Linked DNA regions of Homo sapiens: region 2 is linked to region 1. The links come from fine-mapping of genetic effects on gene expression. A gene starts in region 1. The other region holds a variant in brackets. All regions are shown on one strand. Distances are from middle to middle. Region 1 holds the start of HMHB1 (histocompatibility minor HB-1). Region 2 has its middle 50 kb from the start of MIR5197.

Evidence for each region.
Region 2: its variant is fine-mapped to the expression of HMHB1 in lung (TOPMed, PIP above 0.99).

The regions. Positions count from the first base shown.
Region 1 is chr5:143,807,692-143,817,382 of GRCh38, reverse strand. HMHB1 (histocompatibility minor HB-1) reads right to left here and starts at 5,222. Exons shown (of 2, transcript NM_021182.3): 1 at 5,079-5,222. The coding sequence starts at 5,115.
Region 2 is chr5:143,725,457-143,735,147 of GRCh38, reverse strand. No RefSeq gene overlaps it. Among named protein-coding and RNA genes, the nearest start is that of MIR5197, 50 kb to the right of the region's middle. The variant CAG/G (reference allele first, on the strand shown) is at 3,803.

The DNA of each region.
Region 1 (9,691 bases):
TACAAAAATCAACTCAAGATGGATTAAGGACTCAAATCTAAGACCTGAAACTATAAAAATTCTAGAAGAGAACATTGGGAAAACCCTTCTAGACATTGGCTTAGGCAAGGATTTCATGGCCAAGAACCCAAAAGCAAAGGCAATAAAAACAAAGATAAATAGCTGGGACTTAATTAAACTAAAGAGCTTTTACGCAGCAAAAGAAACAGCAGAGTAAACAGATGACTGACAGAGTGAGAAAAAAATCTTCACAATCTATACATGTGACAAAGGACTAAGGACTAATATCCAGAATCTACAACAAACTCAAACAAATCAGCAAGGAAGAAAAAAATCCCATCAAAAAGTGGGCTAAGGACATGAATAGACAATTCTCAGAAGAAGATATACAAATGGCCAACAAACATATGAAAAAACACTGAGCATCACTAATGATCAAGGAAATGCAAATCAAAACCACAGTGCAATACCATCTTACTCTGCAAGAATGGCTATAATCAAAAAATCAAAGCACAGTAGATGCTGGCATGGATGCAGTGAACGGGGAACACTTTTACACTGCTGGTGGGAATGTAAACTTGTACAACCATTATGGAAAACAGTGTGAAGATTCTTTAAAGAACTAAAAGTAGAGCTACCATTTGATCCAGCAATCCCACTACTGGGTATCAACCCAGAGGAAAAGAAGTCATTATGCGAAAAAGATACTTGCACACACATGTTTATAGCAGCATAATTTGCACGTGCAAAATCATGGAACCAATACGAATGCCCATTAATCAATGAGTGGATAAAGAAACTGTGGTATATATATACAATGGAATACTACTCAGCCATAAAAAGGAATTAATTAATGGCATCCACAGTGACCTGGATGAGAATGGAGAGTATTACTCTAAGTGAAGTAACTCAGGAATGGAAAACCAAATATCATATATTCTCACTCATAAGTGAGAGCTAAGCTGTGAGGACGCAAAGGCATAATAATGACACAGTGGACTTTGGGGACTCAGGGGGAAAGGGTGGGAAGGGAGTGAGGGATAAAAGACTACAAATAGGATGCAATGTATACAGCTCATGTGATGAGTGCACCAAAATCTCAGAAATCACCACTAAAGAACTGACTCATGTAACCAAACACCACCTACTCCACAATAACCTATGGAAATGAGAATATTTAAAAAATATATTCTTGGTAGCAGAATAATATTCTCCCCCAAGATGCTCATGTCATAATCCTCAGAACTATGGCAAAGGATAATTAAGTTTGCAGATGGAATTTAGATTGCTAATCAGGTGACCTTAAAATAGGGAGATTCTTTTGGGTTATCTGAGAAAGCTTAATGTAATAAAAGGGCCCTTAAAAGTGGAAAAGAGGGCTGGGCACAGCGGCTCACGCCTGTAATCCCAGCACTTTGGGAGGCCGAGGCGGGTGGATCATGAGGTCAGGAGATCGAGACCATCCTGGCTAACAAGGTGAAACCCCGTCTCTACTAAAAATACAAAAAATTAGCCGGGTGCGGTAGCGGGCGCCTGTAGTCCCAGCTACTCGGGAGGCTGAGGCAGGAGAATGGCGTGAACCCGGGAAGCGGAGCTTGCAGTGAGCCGAGATTGCGCCACTGCAGTCCGCAGTCCGGCCTGGGCGACAGAGCGAGACTCCGTCTCAAAAAAAAAAAAAAATACAAAAATTAGCCAGGCATGGTGGCGCTCACCTGTAATCCCAGCTACTTAGGAGGCTGAAGCAGGAGAATCACTTGAACCCGAAATGTGGAGGTTGCAGTGAGCCAAGATTGCGCCACTGCACTCCAAATCCAGCCTGGGCGACAGAGCGAGACTGCATCTCAAAAAAAAAAAAGAAAAAAATACAAGGAAAAAAGAAAAAGTAAAAAGTAGAAGAGGGAAGCAAAACAGGAAAGTTAAAGGGATACATTACTTTGAAAAAAGGTTAGAGAGCTGCAACATTGTTAGCTTTAAAGACGGAAGATGGGACCATGAGCAATGGAATGCAGGTAAATCTGTAAGTTGGAAAAGGAAAGGAAAAGGATTCTCCCTAAGAGCCTTCAGCTAAAACCACAGCCCCACTGACACCTTGACTATAGCCAAATAAGGCCCTGATTGGATTTCTGTCCTCTTAACTGTAAGATAATGAATTGTGCAGATTTAAACTACTAAATTTGTGGTAATTCAGTATAGCAACAATAGGAAACTAATACAGAATTAGGGAAAAGTTCAGTAATTTAGGTCTCTGAACTTTGTTAGAAAGGTCAGTTCTCTCTTCTCTTCACCCCTAATCCCTTCATTCATGGAGCTTGCCCCATGGTGACATCCTACAATTTGCCAGCTTTGGGAACAGTATCAGACAGAGCAACATTTGCATTTTTGCACCATCCATGCTGCAAAGCTGAGCAACAGAAAGGTTTGACGGGATAACAAATATCAACAAATGAGAGCTAGGTCAGGAAGAAAACCTGGTAGAAGCCACACAATATTTGTGCAATAGCCACAGGTATTTGTGGGCACAGGTGAAGCACTACTTTGAAGGATAACTTTTAGTGGGGACAAATTCCATTTTGAGAAAGTAGGAGACTAAAAGATAAAATTTTTATAATTATGACTCTATTTGTAGGTGAGGCCAGCTTGGATTATGCTAATAATAAGGTATACACTAATACTGGTTACTTTCTGAAGTTTATGACATAATTTTAAATATAATTAGAGACGATTGAAGATTACCCCTATAATGACAGCATCCTTGCATATTAGTTTTTCAATATCTTGAGTGATAAAAAATGAGGAGGATGTGAGATGTTGTGCTGGGAAGTGCACATAGGCCTCAGACTGTCCTCTCTCTGACAGCTAAGTCCTGAGTGAGCTCCTACTATGAACTGAAACGCAAAAAATGGAAAGAGCATTTGTTGGGGCCAGTGTAAGTCAACTGTTTCCATCCTTATTCCTTAACTCAAAAACTCAAATAAAGAAAGACATTGTCAATTTCATGAGCGGTCCATATTTTTTTCTATTGACGAGAGACAAAGAATAACAAATAAAAGTATTTTATAAGGATATGAGTTATAAAATTAACTTTTTGTTATCTCCAAATTGTTATTTTGCAAGGAAAAAAATATAAGTAACAAATATGAGTATTCCTTTTTTTGGATCCATATTTGGCTGGATGCAGCCTGGACAGGTGTCATGGTTATAGATTATTGTCATGTGTCTCAGTTGTGATTTCAGTATGCTTATTGCTAGTTCTTTTATTTTGCCAATGGCTACATTTTTAATAAAGAAAAAGACAAGGATAGATGAGGAAAATATAGAACATTTTTATCTTCAATGCATGTCAGTAAGAATGATGCTATGAAATTTCAGTTAATAATGAAATTGGAGCTACAAAGACCAAATCATAAATAAAATGAATTTGCAATAGTGTTACTCATAGTAACACATAAAAATATGAAAATATCATGTGCCATATTTGCCTCTGCACTGAGTTATATCTGTACTTCTGCTTCAATACTGTAATTGGCCATCTCATTTCTATTGCCTATGGAGCAAAAGTCTGAAATAAAAAAGGTATGTTCATATTTATTACTTATATTTTTTTCCTTGCAAAATGACAATCTGGAGATAAAAAAAGTTAATTTTATAATTCACATCCTTACAAAAGAATTTTATTTGTTATTCTTCCAAAGGAAATCCACATGCCATTTACTTTATCTCTCACCAATAAAAAAAAATATGGACTGCTCATGAGACTGACAATGTCTTTCTTCATTTGAGTTTCTGAGTTAAGGAAACAAGGATGGAAACAGTTGACTTATGCTGGCCCCAACAAATGCCCTTTCCATTTTTTACTTTTCAGTTCAGCTAACATTTATTGACAGCTTTTACTGTGCCAAGCACTGTGCTAGATGCCAAGGATACAGAAATGATTAAAACACAGTTCCTTCCCTCAAGAATCCCATGCTCTGATGGAGGAGGCGAACAAGTGCTTTAGGCCAAAATGTAAAACTATGAGGGCACCAAAAAGGGAGTGGTTTATTTTGCCTGGAAAGAAATAAAACCTTCATAGAAGAGGTGACATTTGAAAGGGGCCTTGAAGGAAAAAAGGGAAGGTCGGTAGTTGTCTGTATGAAACAATAAAACAGCATAAAAATTCTAAAAGAAAGTTCTGTTTGTATTCTGTGGGCTACCTGTGCAACTGGATCTGAGCATTCCCTGGGGTGGCTGAGGGGGCTGTGTGGACCAGACAGAGCACAGGCTTCCCCGGCCTCATCAGTCCAGGCTGAGTGACCTCCAGTTGCAGGAAGGAGAAAACAGCAGATCCCTTCAGTGCACGGCACCAACACCTCCTATAACGTCAACCCAGGGCTCCGTGTGTCCTCTTCAAGAGGAGAAAACAAGACAAAAAAACAAACAAACAAACAAAAAACACGACAGCAGGGCCTTTCTGCCATTTCCTGGCTCTGAAATGAGGTTAGTGAGTTAAGGAATGAAGCCATCGTGTCTTTATCTGTAAACTGGGGAAAGCTATACCCCCCTCAAGTGCTTCTGTGAGGATGAAAGAGAGAAATGCATGCAAAGCCCCCGGCACATGATCCTAAGAAGTGGGAGCATGGCGATGATGGTGATGATGGTGGCCATGCTAAGGATAAAGGACGGGTCTGGTCTCTGGGCTGCCTTGGGAAGCCTGAGCATCCCACGCGGTGGGCAAGAACAATGTGATCTTGGCTACCCTGGCTCCGACCCAGAGGGACTTCCTGCCCATCTGCACTTCCCTTGCCGTTGTCCTTGTGGCTCAGGTGGTGCAGGCAGCTGCTCCAACTGCTGCCTCTGGTGCCCTGACAGCTGCAGGCAGCCAGGCAATGGGCTATGAAACCGAACCTCAACTGGAAACTATCCGCCCTAAATAATCCCAGCAACAAGGGCCGTCTCACTCCTCTCCCCTGCCTTCCGCCATCCCTGTTTTCACCTGTTGTGGTTTCCCTCTCATTCCACCAGCATTTTCTTTCATTTTCTCTGCCCCTTCGCTGCCTCTTTCCCTCTCTCTCTGTTCTCCCTCCTCCTCGCTCCCTCACCTCTTTTTTCTTCTCTGCATTCTGGCTGCTCCTCCAGTTCTGGTTTCTCCACTGTGGTGTGGCAGAGGATGTGAGGTCAGAAGGCTCAGGGCCTGCCCGGCTTCTGAGATGCGGGGCAAGCCGCCTCGGCCTCCTGGGATGTGGTTTCCTCATCTGCAGAATTGGACCAGAATGACTCTGGAGTGTTCCTTCCGTTCTAAACTCCCGTTCTGTTACATTGTGTTGTGTTAGCCTTTGTGCCTGCTTTTCCTGCTTCAGCTGTCTCATCTGTCCACCTGCCTCTTCCATCTGCATCCCACCACTCGGGTCCAAGCTGCCAGCATCCCTTGCAAGGACCCCTAGAGCAGCCTCCTGCTATTGGAGGTCTCTCTGCTCCTGTTCTTATCCACATCCAATGTGTTATCCACACAGAATCCACAGTGACCTTATCAAAATAGAGATGAGATTGCTCACTCAGCTTAAATCCTCCAAACTCCTTTACACCCCTTTTCTATCATAGGTCCCTGTTTATGTTCTTCAGAGTAATTATTATTGCCTGAAATTATCTTTATTTACTCATGAATTTCTTAATGTTGATGTATCATTTGCTGTCTGTCTTCCACACTAGAATGCAGGCTCCAGGAGTGATGGACTTGATTGTCTCGTTTACTCCATATCCTCACTGGAGGGGCCAGCGCCTTTATTCTCTCCATAAACACTGAATGAAGGAACCTCCCTTTGCCGCAGAATCCATCTCTCCCCTTCTTGAGAGTATTCTCTCCTAACCACACCATTTCTTACTTAGAAATACCTGTGCCTGCCAGAAATCCTGCCCATCCTTCTCTGTCATTTCTGATATAATTCCCCTCATTCACTTTTCTCAGTCAGCCGGGTCCTGTGTTCCCATGGGCTATGGTAAAGAACAATGGCAATGATGAAGCTAGTTCTTCTTTCACTTTAATGTCAATCTGTGCCGTTGGATGCCTTAAGATAAAATAACTTAACAACTCTGAGACTTGAATCTAGTTAATTGTCTTACAATGCTGAGAAAGAGACTTCTTTAAGAAAATATATTAAAACTTCCAAAATTCTGTGCTTGGTTCTTGGGGAGATGTTAGGAGTAGCCATTTTCTTTAAAACACCTCTTTAAAGTAGGTAATGTTAATATGTCCATTTTACAGGTAACAAAACTGGGATTTAGAGAGTGCACAACTGGACAAGGCCATAGAGCCAGAGGTGCATGGAGCCAGGATTTGAATGGAAGAAGTGCAACGCCAGACCCAGGCACCTAGCCACCACATGGGTGACCCTAGTCACCCTCTCACTCCCTAGATTAGATTACTCTGCATTATTTTCACCATAACACTTATAAATACCTGATGCGATCATATTTCTTGTGTCTATTTGCTTCCATTATAACATAAACTCCATCCAGGCAGTTACCATATCTGACCTGTTCACTGCACTTATTCCAATACTTACAATAGTGCCTCATACATAATGGACGTTCAATAAATATTTGCTAAATGAATTAGTTATTTGCATATTGAGGATGAGATATGAAAGAAGGCCTGATAATTCTGTATATAAAACTCCATCTTAGCCAGGCACTGTGGCTCACACCTGTAATTCCCAGCACTTTGGGAGGCCAAGGCAGCAGGATCGCTTGAGCCCAGGAGTTTGAAACCAGCCTGGTCAACATAGACCTCATCCCCACACAAAAAAAAATAATAAATAAAAAATAAAAAATTAGCCAGGCACGGTGGTGCATACATGTAGCCTCAGTTACTCAGGAGGCTGAGGCCAGAGGATCAATTGAGCCCAGGAGTTTGAGGCTGCAGTAAGCCATGATCACTCCAATAATGCACCCCAACCTGGATGACAGAGAAAGACTGGGTCTGTAAAAAACAAAAACCATCTTCTTTGATGATGGAATTTTCTCAAAAGTATCTTCAGTGTTGGCATATCTTTTTCCTTTGAGAATGCATTGGCTTTTTGCAATTAGCCAAAACTGTTAAAGACTGCTTTTTTGTCAAAAAGAACATATGGTCATAAAGCATCATCACTGCTTTTCTTGCCCTGAAATTAGATCTATTTGTGGAGGTGTGGAGGTCTAACTTTCTGTGCTTTGGGAAGCTTATGCACTCTGGTAAGGCCCCTGGACTCTGTCTCAGAATCATCATTTTTATAAGTATAAAAGAAAATATATAGAATTATAAAGAGCCAATTATATTGAATACAGTTATCAAAATGTTAAAAATTGTGACATAGTAACATATTTTCTTCTTTAATAACATATTAAATAAGAAGATCTAAAAATGTCTAATATCAACCTGGGAATGATATTTACAGATATCTGCAAAAACTAAAATGTGTTATGAAAATAACAGAATTAAATTAGACTCAGAATTTTCACTGGTAACAAAAATTTAGGTATTACTATTGCTTTCATAATTAAAGGAAACTTTAACTTTCTATTTTTCCTTTTTTTTTTTTTTTTTGAGACGGAGTCTTGCTCTGTCGCCCAGGCTGGAGTGCAGTGGCACAATCTCGGCTCACTGCAAGCTCCACCTCCTGGGTTCATGCCATTCTCCTGCCTCAGCCTCCTGAGTAGCTGGGACTACAGGCACCCGCCACCACGCCCGGCTAATTTTTTGTATTTTTAGTGGAGACGGGGTTTCACCATGTTAGCCAGGATGGTCTTAATCTCCTGCCCTTGTGATCCGCCTGCCTCGGCCTCCCAAAGTGCTGGGATTACAGGCTTGAGCTACCGCGCCTGGCCAGGAAACTTTAACTTTCATAAAGAGGTTAGTACAAAGAAAGATATAATTTTTCCTGCCCAGATTTACAGGCCTCTGAATCTTATCCACAGACTCCATGGACCCCAAATTTTAAAACCCTATATTAGAGAAATCCAGAATAGGTTCAGCAGTAGCAGCTACATTTAAGTAAGTGTATTACCTCTTAAGGTGACCTTAAACAGGTTATTCTTTACATGGTGTATAAGTTCTGACATACATGGTTATTTTTAAAATTCAGCACCACTTTTAAACCTACTGTAAACCTTTTAAAATTTTAAATTATTTAATTTTAAATTAATTTTTAAAATTAAAGATTTTAAATTAAGTTGTTAAAATTCAGCATCACTTTATACCTACCAATAGCGGGCATAGTTATAATCATTTTAATCTGTTTGCTTATTCTGTATCTACATATATATGATATAATATTCTGAAAACTTTTAATCCTTGACTATTATAAATTTATAAATTTTATTGGTAGATTTTATTTTATATTTTTAATTTGGTCCTCCTCTTTTATCTTTTCTTGTTTATTTTGACCAACATCTCCCTAACCCCTTTCCCAAATTTATTGATTTTTACATATTAATTTAAAACAGTTCATGCAGTCACATAATCCAAAAGTTCAAAAGGTATAAACGTACAGAAAATCTCCTTCTATCTCTGTCCAGAGTCACCTGGGTCTCTTCCTTTAGGGCAACCAATATTAGTTTCTTATATATTCTTTCAGAGATGCTTGAGATATACAAGCTTGTAAATTGTAGCATATTATCCCCATGATTTTCCACGCTCTTTTTTTTCACTTACTTCTATGTCTACAAGTTAATTCTATATTGGTGCCTTAAAACCTTCTTCATTTGTTTTTGTGGCTGCATAGTCTATTGTAAGGATGTATCATAATTATTTAACCAGTCTCTTAGTGATGGGCATTTAAGTTTTGCTATTCGATTTGCTGTTTACTATCATGAAAATTATTTGCTATTAGAAAAAGAGAGAACAGCAAAAAGTATCATCTAAGATTGGAATTTTGTCATGGACACCCACATATGTGGGACTTAGAATCATGAACCCTAAATATAAGTAGGTGGCAAGAGATGTATACCATATAGAGGTTAATATAACATATTGAAAATCACAATATCATGGATAATACCCCAACAGGATAGAGAGGAAACACAGAAACGTCATCAACCCTTTCAGTGGTCTAGGCCAGGTTTAGCATTTTTCAGGACCTAAGAGGGGATAACTGAGGGCAGGTAGGATATCCCCAATTTGACAGGCCCCTTTGGAGGAAGCTTGAAAGTTTCAACGGAGCACATTTGTTTTGTTTTGTTTACTCTGGCTCTCAGGAACAGAGGCTTGAGTTAATAACACTCTTTGGTTCATGGCGCAATGTCATCAGTGGTCCATGGAGGTTCCTCTATTGTGCTTATTTATTCCCCTTAACCCCCATTTCTGTCTTTCATTGCCCCCCTCCCACATCATTCTAAATAAATGTGTTTAATGTGTATATTTTTATGTGCAAAATGGATATGATGATATTTTGTGCATGTGTGTGTATTTCAGATTTACAGCAATGATACTGGATTATAACTAATTCTATTTCTTCTTCCACCTCCACTATGTTGTATGGCCCCTCCGTGTTTCTACACAAACATCTAATTCATGGTCTCTAACTGCAGGGTGGTCACATCCATCACTTTGTATCCACCTGCTTTCTCAGTGAGGGACAGCCAGGGTGCCTCCTGCTCCTTGCCACCAGAAATTAAATTGCAGTTCACAACCTTGTACGTGGCCCCCTCTGGATCTGTGTGAGAATTTATCTGGTGTACA
Region 2 (9,691 bases), 82 kb after region 1:
CCAGGTGTGTTCTAGGCATCACTAGCATGGAAAACACTTGTGAGTGCTAGCTAACTATATAGATTTCAGGCCTATCAGAAATCTCTGCAGCTGGTTTCAAAGATGCTGCATCATCAACGAACTCCTAGGTGATGGCTATGTATGCTTAATCTTGCGAACCACTGCTTTTAGTTCTCCTGCCCTGTGCTTTGCTTGACCATTAAAACAAGAAGGTCAAATTGGAGCAGGTGAATGAATGTTCTCCACCTAATGATGATAAAAGGAATTTGGAGAATAGCACAGGCAGCCAAATTAAGGAAGACCAGGGAGAAACTTTCTCTTTCTTGTCTTTACTATGTTTCAAACCCAGATTGTGGCATTGGCCTTTTATTTGAAGTCTAATTTTGTTTGGTTTTATTTTGTTTGGTTTTTGTTGGCTTTATTTATAAGGATGCCTTTGTGAAAATCTATACTATTTCTATCAGTGACTCCAAAGCCAGAGCTCAAGTTGTTTCTTTTACCTTGGACTTACTCACGTATTTTCTTCCTCTACAAACCAAAAAATGTGAAGTCGTGTCTCAACATGTTTCAAAGCACTCCACAGGAAGGTACCATGTTGAGAAAGGTATGGAGCACATCTGATAGACTGAGGTGGGTGACTGTGATAGGTATAACCTTAAAGTAATACAGAGTGAGGCAGGCGATGCTGATCAAGTTCTTGTCTAAAGTCTGTGTTGACACCAATAGAGACTCCAGAAGTTGAGAAAGCAGCAAAAAAAAAAAAAAAAAAAGAGAGAGAGAGGATCTTGAGCTATTAGTTGTAGTCCTGTTCTGTCACTAGCTATCAGCATGACTCTGTGAGAGTTACTTAATTTTTTCAAAGCCTAGTTTCCTCATTTGTTAAAGCAGAGGGTTTTTCAGGTACTTCAATTGCAATGACCTACAGGGCCAGGCAGGTAATGTAAATGCGTGAAGTCAGCGGCAAATCAGGGGGAAGTACAAGCCACTGAGAGCATGCGCCTCCTGAAGGCATTCAGGCACAGTTCTTCCTGAAACACAGTACCAGCCAAACAAAACAGATATGCGGCTGAATTTAACCCAGGATAGACTGTCTCTCGGGGTCCTTCCAGCACATAGCCAAAAGTTTTAGAGTTTCTTAACCATTGGGGTTCAACATGTCCATTGCATACCAGTATTAAACCAGAATCAGGAGGAGATTGAGGAGACCCAATAGAAAATGTTGATGATCTCATTCCTGTTACTTAAACTGGGAACAAGTGGCAAGTTGCTGAGCTTCCCACAGACTAGCTGAGGACACAGTGCCAAAGAGGAACCTGCATTCTTTTCCCTAAATGTAATGAGGCTGAAAAAAGATTCTGAAGAAGATGTAGAGTTATTTTGGTAGAGCTTCCAAGAAGACTCTGATGCAAGGTAATGGGAAGGGGGGTTGAATCGTTTATTTTGTTCATTTTGCTCTGTCAGTGGGGGAGGGGGGGAGATTAAGATTTTAAATAAAAGTTGATATGATAGCTATCATAAAAATGTGTGGTTTGGGTAATATCTCCAACGCTTTAATGGGAAATTCAGTTATTCTGTATTTCCAGGCATATGGTGGTTCCTCAATCAGATGTTTGATTATTAATTTAATGCATTCGTTCTCAAAGTGTGGCCCCTGCGCCAACAGCATCAGCAATACCTGTGAAGCTGTTAGAAATGCAAATTCTCAGACTGTACCTCAGATCTACTGAATCAGAAACTTGGGACTGGCGTCCGGCAACATGTGTTTTAATGAACCATCCAGGTGATTCTGATGCATCCTAAAGTTTGAGAATCACTGGTTTAATATTGTTAATTGGAGCCACTGGCTAGGTCATGGGTCTGAGCAATGTTTCAATTCTGACATTATGCCATGTTCTTCATATTTATGGGTATTTAAGTCATTCATTTCCAAGTATCAATGGGTCCTCTAAGTAATCAGTAGGGAGTTGATCTGGATGCCAAAATCAAAGAGGTACAATCGATTAAAACTGTCATTGAATAGAATTCATGCACATTCTTCAGGTAAGTGAAGGATCATTCTTGTTACGTATTCATTCCTTTTTAGTGCTTGTTGATTACACATGTTTTATTCTGTAGTATCAGGTTAAATGGTTCAGAAGCATCCTGTGTAAGCAGTAATTTGATGTAGCATGACTTCACTATATAACCCTTTATATAATATCATCAGTCCATCATCAGGGAAAAAAAAAAACAGCACACTCCTAAATAAAAGGGACCTGTCACTTAATTTTTCTCTGAGCATAGCAGTGGGAATCATTTCATCAGTTTCTTTGCATGCAGGAACAATGCATCTCTGCAGTATACAGGTTTGTTAATGCCTGTTATTTTGAGATGATTACATTTTTTGCTTGTTAATATACTGTTCTCTTGTGATCTTAAAAATGTTTCCCATTAGTCATCATTGTTCTCATATGGTACCTGAAAGAATTAACCATGTCCTCTATGTAGACATGGTTAATCTACATCGGTGTTCATTTCTGAGACAAGAAGAAATGCTTAGAATTAGAACACAATGTGGGCTACTGCCTAGCAGTGATTGATCTGTGAGGGCTTATAAATTGGTTGCTAGGCTTTCTAAGTGACATGCAATAGTAAGGGAAACTGAAAACAGGAAATATTGTCTCCCATTTATTCCAGGATGCCTTATACTGAGATCTTGAATTTAGGCTCTGTCTGTTCAATGCAAATGTTTACATGTCCTCTCTTTTGTCTCTGAAAACCACATAACACCAATTATTTTTCTTTCTCTATATATAAACATGCAAATAGCTTATGTAATCAAATATACGTGTGCATAAACTGATTACTTAGAAAGTTAACAAGCCCTGCAACCATTTTTTAGTGAATTGTTATAAATTGTCCTTGATTTCATAATTCTCCACAAAATGATCAAACTTCATCAACATTCATGGGATCTGCTGAGTCTCCTCTTGGTTTTTTTAGCAGATTGGCTGGTCTATTAGAAGTAAGACTTGATTAAAGTTTTTGAAGATTACTGCAGGCCCACTCTTTCCTTATCGTTCATAGAATACTTAGCACAAACCTAATTGGCAGGTGTTTTCTACGAATCTACAATGTGTGAGGCAATGCACCCGAGCACAAGATTTTTGGCAGTGACAAGATTGAGTTTGCCCTTCTCCTGACTAACTGGTGGTGTAGTAGAGACCACTAACTAGTCACCAGTGTTCATCTCCTCTTCTTCATGGGTTTACATTTTGCAGCTTCCTTTGCTGCTGGGTGTGGCATGTGGCTGAATTCTGCCAATAAGTAATGTAGGGTATGAGTACTTGTGGGATGTGTCATTCTACCCTGGCCCTAAAACGCTTCCATGCACCCATCTCCACACACGCTTTCATGCCCCCTACACTTCCCTAACTAGTTCGCTGGGAAGAAAGACATTGAAAAAATAGCAAAAGTGTTTGAGAGGTAAGAAGGTGAACTATCGGACATGACCTTATATGTAGGGACCTTCAGGTCTCATAGTCCTCAGAAAGAAAAAAAAATTTCATTTGGCTTGATTATTTGTTGTGAATTGTTACGAGTTTTACTTAAATGAGGGGAGACCACAAAAGAGATTAAGCTGAGTATAGTGGAGACAAATCCAACAAATTAAGAAATGTGAGATTATGTAGACTCTAAGAAATTGGTTAATTTCTTTAATTCATTTGTATTAACAGAAGGACAGTGCTAGAGCACAAAAGCCGATGCAAGCGTGTTTTGTAGTCTTAGGCCACATGAGAATAACTGCAATTACTTATGTACA[CAG/G]AGTGTGCGGCTCCTTTCCCTATAGTCTTTGAAAACTTTGACTATGCCATGTGAAATATGTACTTCAATAAGGAGGATCTTTCAGGAATGTTTTGTTCTCATATATAATTTGATCATTTAGGGGTTGCTTTGAACAGTGATATACAAGGGGGAAGGTGTTGAAGTGAGAGCAGTCTGCCAAGGTATAAAGGGGTTCATTGTCTGTAGATAACTTAAAAATGATAATAAACCCAACTGAAAGCTAGTCTGCTTATTATTACCATGCACCAGCAATTCTAAACAATGCCAGTGACTTAAAAAAATACTCTTTCCACCAGGGAAACCTCCTGGTAGAAAGGGGTTTACACAACCCGCTACCTTTGCTCCCCAACCCAGCTTGATATATACCACTAGACACCTTAAAGTATCTATTAAGGGCAGTTTTCAATAGCTTTCAGTATAACAAGAGATATTCTGCAATAGGAAATATTATATAATCATAGAATTTTTAATAGTGCATCACCCAGGAAAGTAAATCAGAGGCTATTTTTTCTGGCCTGAAAAAAAAAAAAAAAGTGGAACCAATGACTTCAGGAAGGCTTCAAGCAAGAGCTTGTTCTACAGATTTTTAAAAGACCTGAGCAATATAATGTAACAAAGAAGAGGAAGCATTGGATAAAGGGGAGAGCAAATTCCAAAGCTAGCTAAGTGAGCCAAGACTGGAGATGACCTTAGGTAGAGACTAGTGGAATATGACAACAGTTCAGCCAAGTTGGTATAGCTGGCACAGGACTCAGGTGACAAGTGTCCAAATGTTCTGCTGTGTTTGGAAGTTATCAGGTCCTCGTGAGTGTTAATATCACATAGTCAAAGCATTGGTTTTACAAAATATTACCAATCTGCTGTGAATAACTAGTACCATAGTTTGGGACAGGGAAAAAATTAGATATACAACCATGGCAATTCATATGGAACACATGATCCATGTTATGGTTCTGGGTTTTATAAGTGATGACTGCAGGGCCCCATTACGCTACACAGTGCTTGGTCATTCAGTTTGCAGTTGTGTGAAGCAATCTTGATTGTGCTGACCTGCCAACAGCAGGTCTGGGCTTAGTAATACGGGGGGCATGTAGGGCTTCAAATGCTGGATACCAAGCCTTAGATGATCAGTTTGATCTCTGCCTTTACCAGTTTAATATTCCATAAATTGTTGGTTTTGACCATCTCTTTGACCATAATTGGACCTCATTGAAATAAGGTGTCATTTGAGACTGACACCTCTTTTTTGTGCTGACCCACATCAAAGAATTTACAAAGAGGGATTTGAGAGGGAGTATGACCACCAGGTTCAGACACATAAGAAAGTTAAGGAAATGAGATGATATTGAGAAAAATGGGCATTCAACACCAATTTAAATCATGGAAACTATGTTAATATCTAATGAAACCTCATTTGCCATGGCATAAACAACAATCATCAAACCTCAACAAGAACAGAGAAAACATTACTATATTTCTCATCCTTGAACATTGATCATTATTGGTCCTCAGTGAGCTACAATTTTGGGCATGCTGCTATCATGAATAGCCATTGCATCATTATATTGGCCAATTTCAACAAGGTAAATATCAATAATGAAAGTAAGCTTACTTCTAATGTGGTCCTTCCCCTGCTGCAAAAACATATTGCAGTTCTTTAGAGTAAATGTAAGATGGAGTGAATAGTTGTCTCATCTGTTGTTACCTTTCTTCATCTGAGACACAGCATTACAACTTCATTGGCAGGGAATTAAGAGAAACTTGCCCGACAAAAGCTCTGTGCAAATTCCTGTCCCTTCTGTGCCAACCAAACAGAACAATGTTTGTAGAAACCTTTCCTCTTGAATTTTTAGTGTGGTTCCAAAAGCAGAGGCAGAGAGGATGAACTACCCAGGAAGGACAATGGAGGGAAGATGTGAGGCACAGCATTTCTTATTAAAAGGAAGTGAGCATGGTAAATGGGCCCTATGTATGAGCCAGAATTGCAGTTCTATCAAAATTTCCACTGATGGGTCCAAGGATCCCAAAATCTTAGGTCAGCTTCTTATGCTAAAAATCGACAAAACCCTTAGTACTCAAACTCTCTAGGCAGCCAGACTTGTAACTGGAATTTTAAACATACTTTTTGCAAGTTGCCAAAACCTTCATTTTTCTTTTTAAAAAATCTATTAAGCTAAATCTTTTCAGAAGATCACTATTTCTTTTCAGCGTTGCTGAAATTTTTTTAATTTGTCTCTTGGAGGCATAAACAATCAATGTGGCCATTAATTTGGAGGCCTTTCTCTCTGACAATGGTGCAAATTGAAAACTAATCATTCGAAAGATGTTCCAACTAATCAGGTCAGGGGGAGAAATGGAGAAATGAATAGTATTCCTCATAGCCCAGCTAGAGAGGCTTGCTTGCTTTTTTTTTTTTTTTTTTTTTTTTTTTTTTTTTTTTTTTTTTTGCTGTGAGTTTTAATTTAAGAAGAAAACAAATTCAGGGGGGAAAAAGGACAGAATTTGCCAGTACTGCTTTTTCCAATGATACTTTTAAAATCTTCCCAAAATATAGTATTTTTATTGGTTTTAAATATCTGAGGGCCCTTTCAATTTATTTTAGCCCCATTTTCCTTTTGTTTTATATTACAATACATATATATTTACTTTTTTTTCCTTTGGAAAGTTTCATTAGTTTGTAGCATGTGAGATTTATTTAAGTGCTTTTCTCAATGTCTGAGGCTATATTATTGAATTGCAGAGCTGGTTTTTAAGTTTACTAGTTATTCAAATTTGCTGTCCCCAGTAATCAAGTTATGGTCAAGGAATTCCCTTGCATAGGGAAAATGCTTTTACATTTTCTCTAATAGAACTAAGGTCTACCTTCCATCCCAACTCTGGATGTCCTTTTCTGGTTGGTGACCAAGGGCCAACAGAAAGAGAAAGGGAGACTTAATGACGTTTTATAGAAAACTAACTATATGAAATAAACTCCACAAGCTAGAGTTTGGAGTCATTTAAAGCATTTTCTAAATTACTCAAAGTGTCATTGATTTGAAAACTCAGACTGCATTCTTAAGCATCACAATCAAACCACAGTATCACCTAATCTTTTGGATTAAGGAAATGCCTTATGGAGTGAGAAGTAATATAACCTCTCCTTCAACAAAACGTAGGGGTTGGGGGAAGGTACAGGAGCTGCTACTAGTTGTAGACCAATGGCTCACTGAAACTTCAGAGCCGCCTCACTACACCACCATGCTGGAGCACTTTCACCCAAGACCGTTGCTGGCCCAGTGGAGCACTTTCACCTGTGGCCCCACTGCCATCCCATTGGAGTGCTTTTGCCAGCAGCCCCTGATGGAGCACGATTGCCAGTGGAGAGGGAGCACCTCGGCCCCCTCAGTGCAGCCAGTGTTTGACATCGAGAAACCAGAGAACAAAGCCACAGACCCAGTCCCAGTCCCTCCCAGAGTTAAAGCAGGCAGCCCAAGAGTGCCAAGCTGAGCCTAGGACTTCTGAAAGCATCCAGAAATGACGCCAGTCAACTAAACCCAACTTATACTACTGTCAAACCTTTAAGGGCATTGAAAAATTTAAAAGCTTCAAACCAGCAATGGTGTGTTGGAGAAAAAAATGTGAAGAACGTAAAAGTTAAAAGCCCCATCCAAAGGACAGCAACTTCAAAGGTTAAAGGAACATCAACCCACACAAATCAGAAAGAACCAGTGTGAGAATTCTATAACTCTAAAATCCAGAGCACCCCTTTACCTCCACATGAGCCCACTAGCTCCCCAGCAATGATTCTTAGCCAAAATGAAATGACTGAAATGACAGATAAGGAATTCAGAATCTGTATGGCAAAGAAGCTCATCAAGATTCAGGAGAAAGTTAAAACTGAATCCAAGGAATCCAGTAAAACTATCTAAGAGCCGAAAGACAAAATAGCCATTTTAAGAAAGAATCAAACTGATCTTCTGGAATTAAGCTCCCTACAAGAATTTCATAACTCAGTCAGAAGCATTAACAGCATATTAGACCAAGCTGAGGAAAGAATCTCAGAGCTCATAGACCAGTTCTGCAAATCAACTCGGACAAAAATAAAGAAAAAAGAATTTTTAAAAGTAAAATTGTGGGCTGGGCGTGGTGGCTCATGCCTGTAATCCCAGCACTTTGGGAGGCCGAGGTAGATGGATCACGAGGTCAGGTGATTGAGACCATCCTGGCTAACACAGTGAAACCCCATCTCTACTAAAAATACAAAAAATTAGCCAGGCATGGTGGCGGGTGCCTGTAGTCCCAGCTACTCAGGAGGCTGAGGCAGGAGAATGGCAGCAACCCGGGAGGCGGAGGTTGCAGTGAGCTGAGATCGTGCCACTGCACTCCAGCCTGGGCGACAGAGCGAGACTCCATCTCAAAAAATAAAATAAAATAAAATTGTAAAGGCACAGTGGCTCACATCTGTAATCCCAGCACTTTGAGAGGTCAATACATGTGGATCACTTGAGCTCAGGAGTCCAAGACCAGCCTGGGCAACATGGTGAGACCCCATCTTTATCAAAAATACGAAAATTAGCTGGGCATATTGGTTCACACCTATAGTCCCAGCTACACAGGAGGCTGAGGTGGGAAGATCACTGGTGCCTGGAAAGTCAAGGCTACAGTGGGCCATGATTGCACTAATGCACTCCAGCCTGGGTGACAGAGTGAGGCCCTGTCTCAAATAAATAAATAAAATCCCCAAGAAACATGGATTACATAAAGAGACGAAATCTGCGACTCATCGGCATTCCTGAAAGAGTAGGAGAGAGAGTAAGCGACTTGGAAAATATATTTTAGGATATAATCCACGAAAATTTCCCCACTCTTACTAGAGAGGATGACATGAAAATTCAATAAATACAGAGAACCCCTCTGAGATACTGTTAATGGTAACCAGAGAGAAGAGTCAGGTCATTTTTTTTTTTTTTGAGATGGAGTCTCACTCTGTCACCCAGGCTGGAGTGCAGTGGCACTATCTCAGCTCACAGCAAGCTCTGCCTCCTGGGTTCATGCCATTCTCCTGCCTCAGCCTCCCGAGTTGCTGGGACTATAGGCGCCTGCCACCACGCCCAGCTAATTTTTTTTTCTTTTTTGCATTTTTTGTAGAGATGGGGTTTCAGCATGCCAGCCAGGATGGTCTCGATCTCCTGACCTCATGATCCACCCACTTCGGCCTCCCAAAGTGCCAGGATTACAGGCATGAGCCACTGCACCCAGCCTGAGTCAGGTCATTTATAAAGGGAACCCTGTCAGGCTAGCAGCAGACCTCTTAGAAAATTTACAAAGCAGAAGAGACTGAGGGCCTATTTTCAGCATCGTTAAAGAGAACAAATTCCAACCAAGAATTTCATATCCTGCCAAACTAAGTTTCATAAGTGAAAGAGAAATAAAATCCTTCTCAGACTAAGCAGATGCTAAGGAAATTTATTAGACCAGCTTTACAAGAAGTCCTTAAGGAAATGCTAAACATAGAAACAAAAGAAAGACACCTGCTAAAACAAAAACACACTTAAGCACATGGCCCACAGACACTATAAAGCAACTATACCAATCAAGTCTACAAAACAACCAGCTAACAACACAATGAAAGAATCAAAATCTCACATATCAAAACTAACCCTGAATGCAAACGGTCTAAATGCCACCACTTAAAAGGTATAGAGTGGAAAGCCAGATAAAAAGACGAGACCTGGCTGGGCGTGGTAGCTCTCGCCTGTAATCTCAGCACTTTGGGAGGCTGAGGTGGGTGGATCATTTGAGGTCAGAAGTTCAAGACTAGCCTGGTGAGACATGGTGAAATCCCATCTCTTTTAAAAATACAAAAATTAGCCAGGTGTGGTGGCGC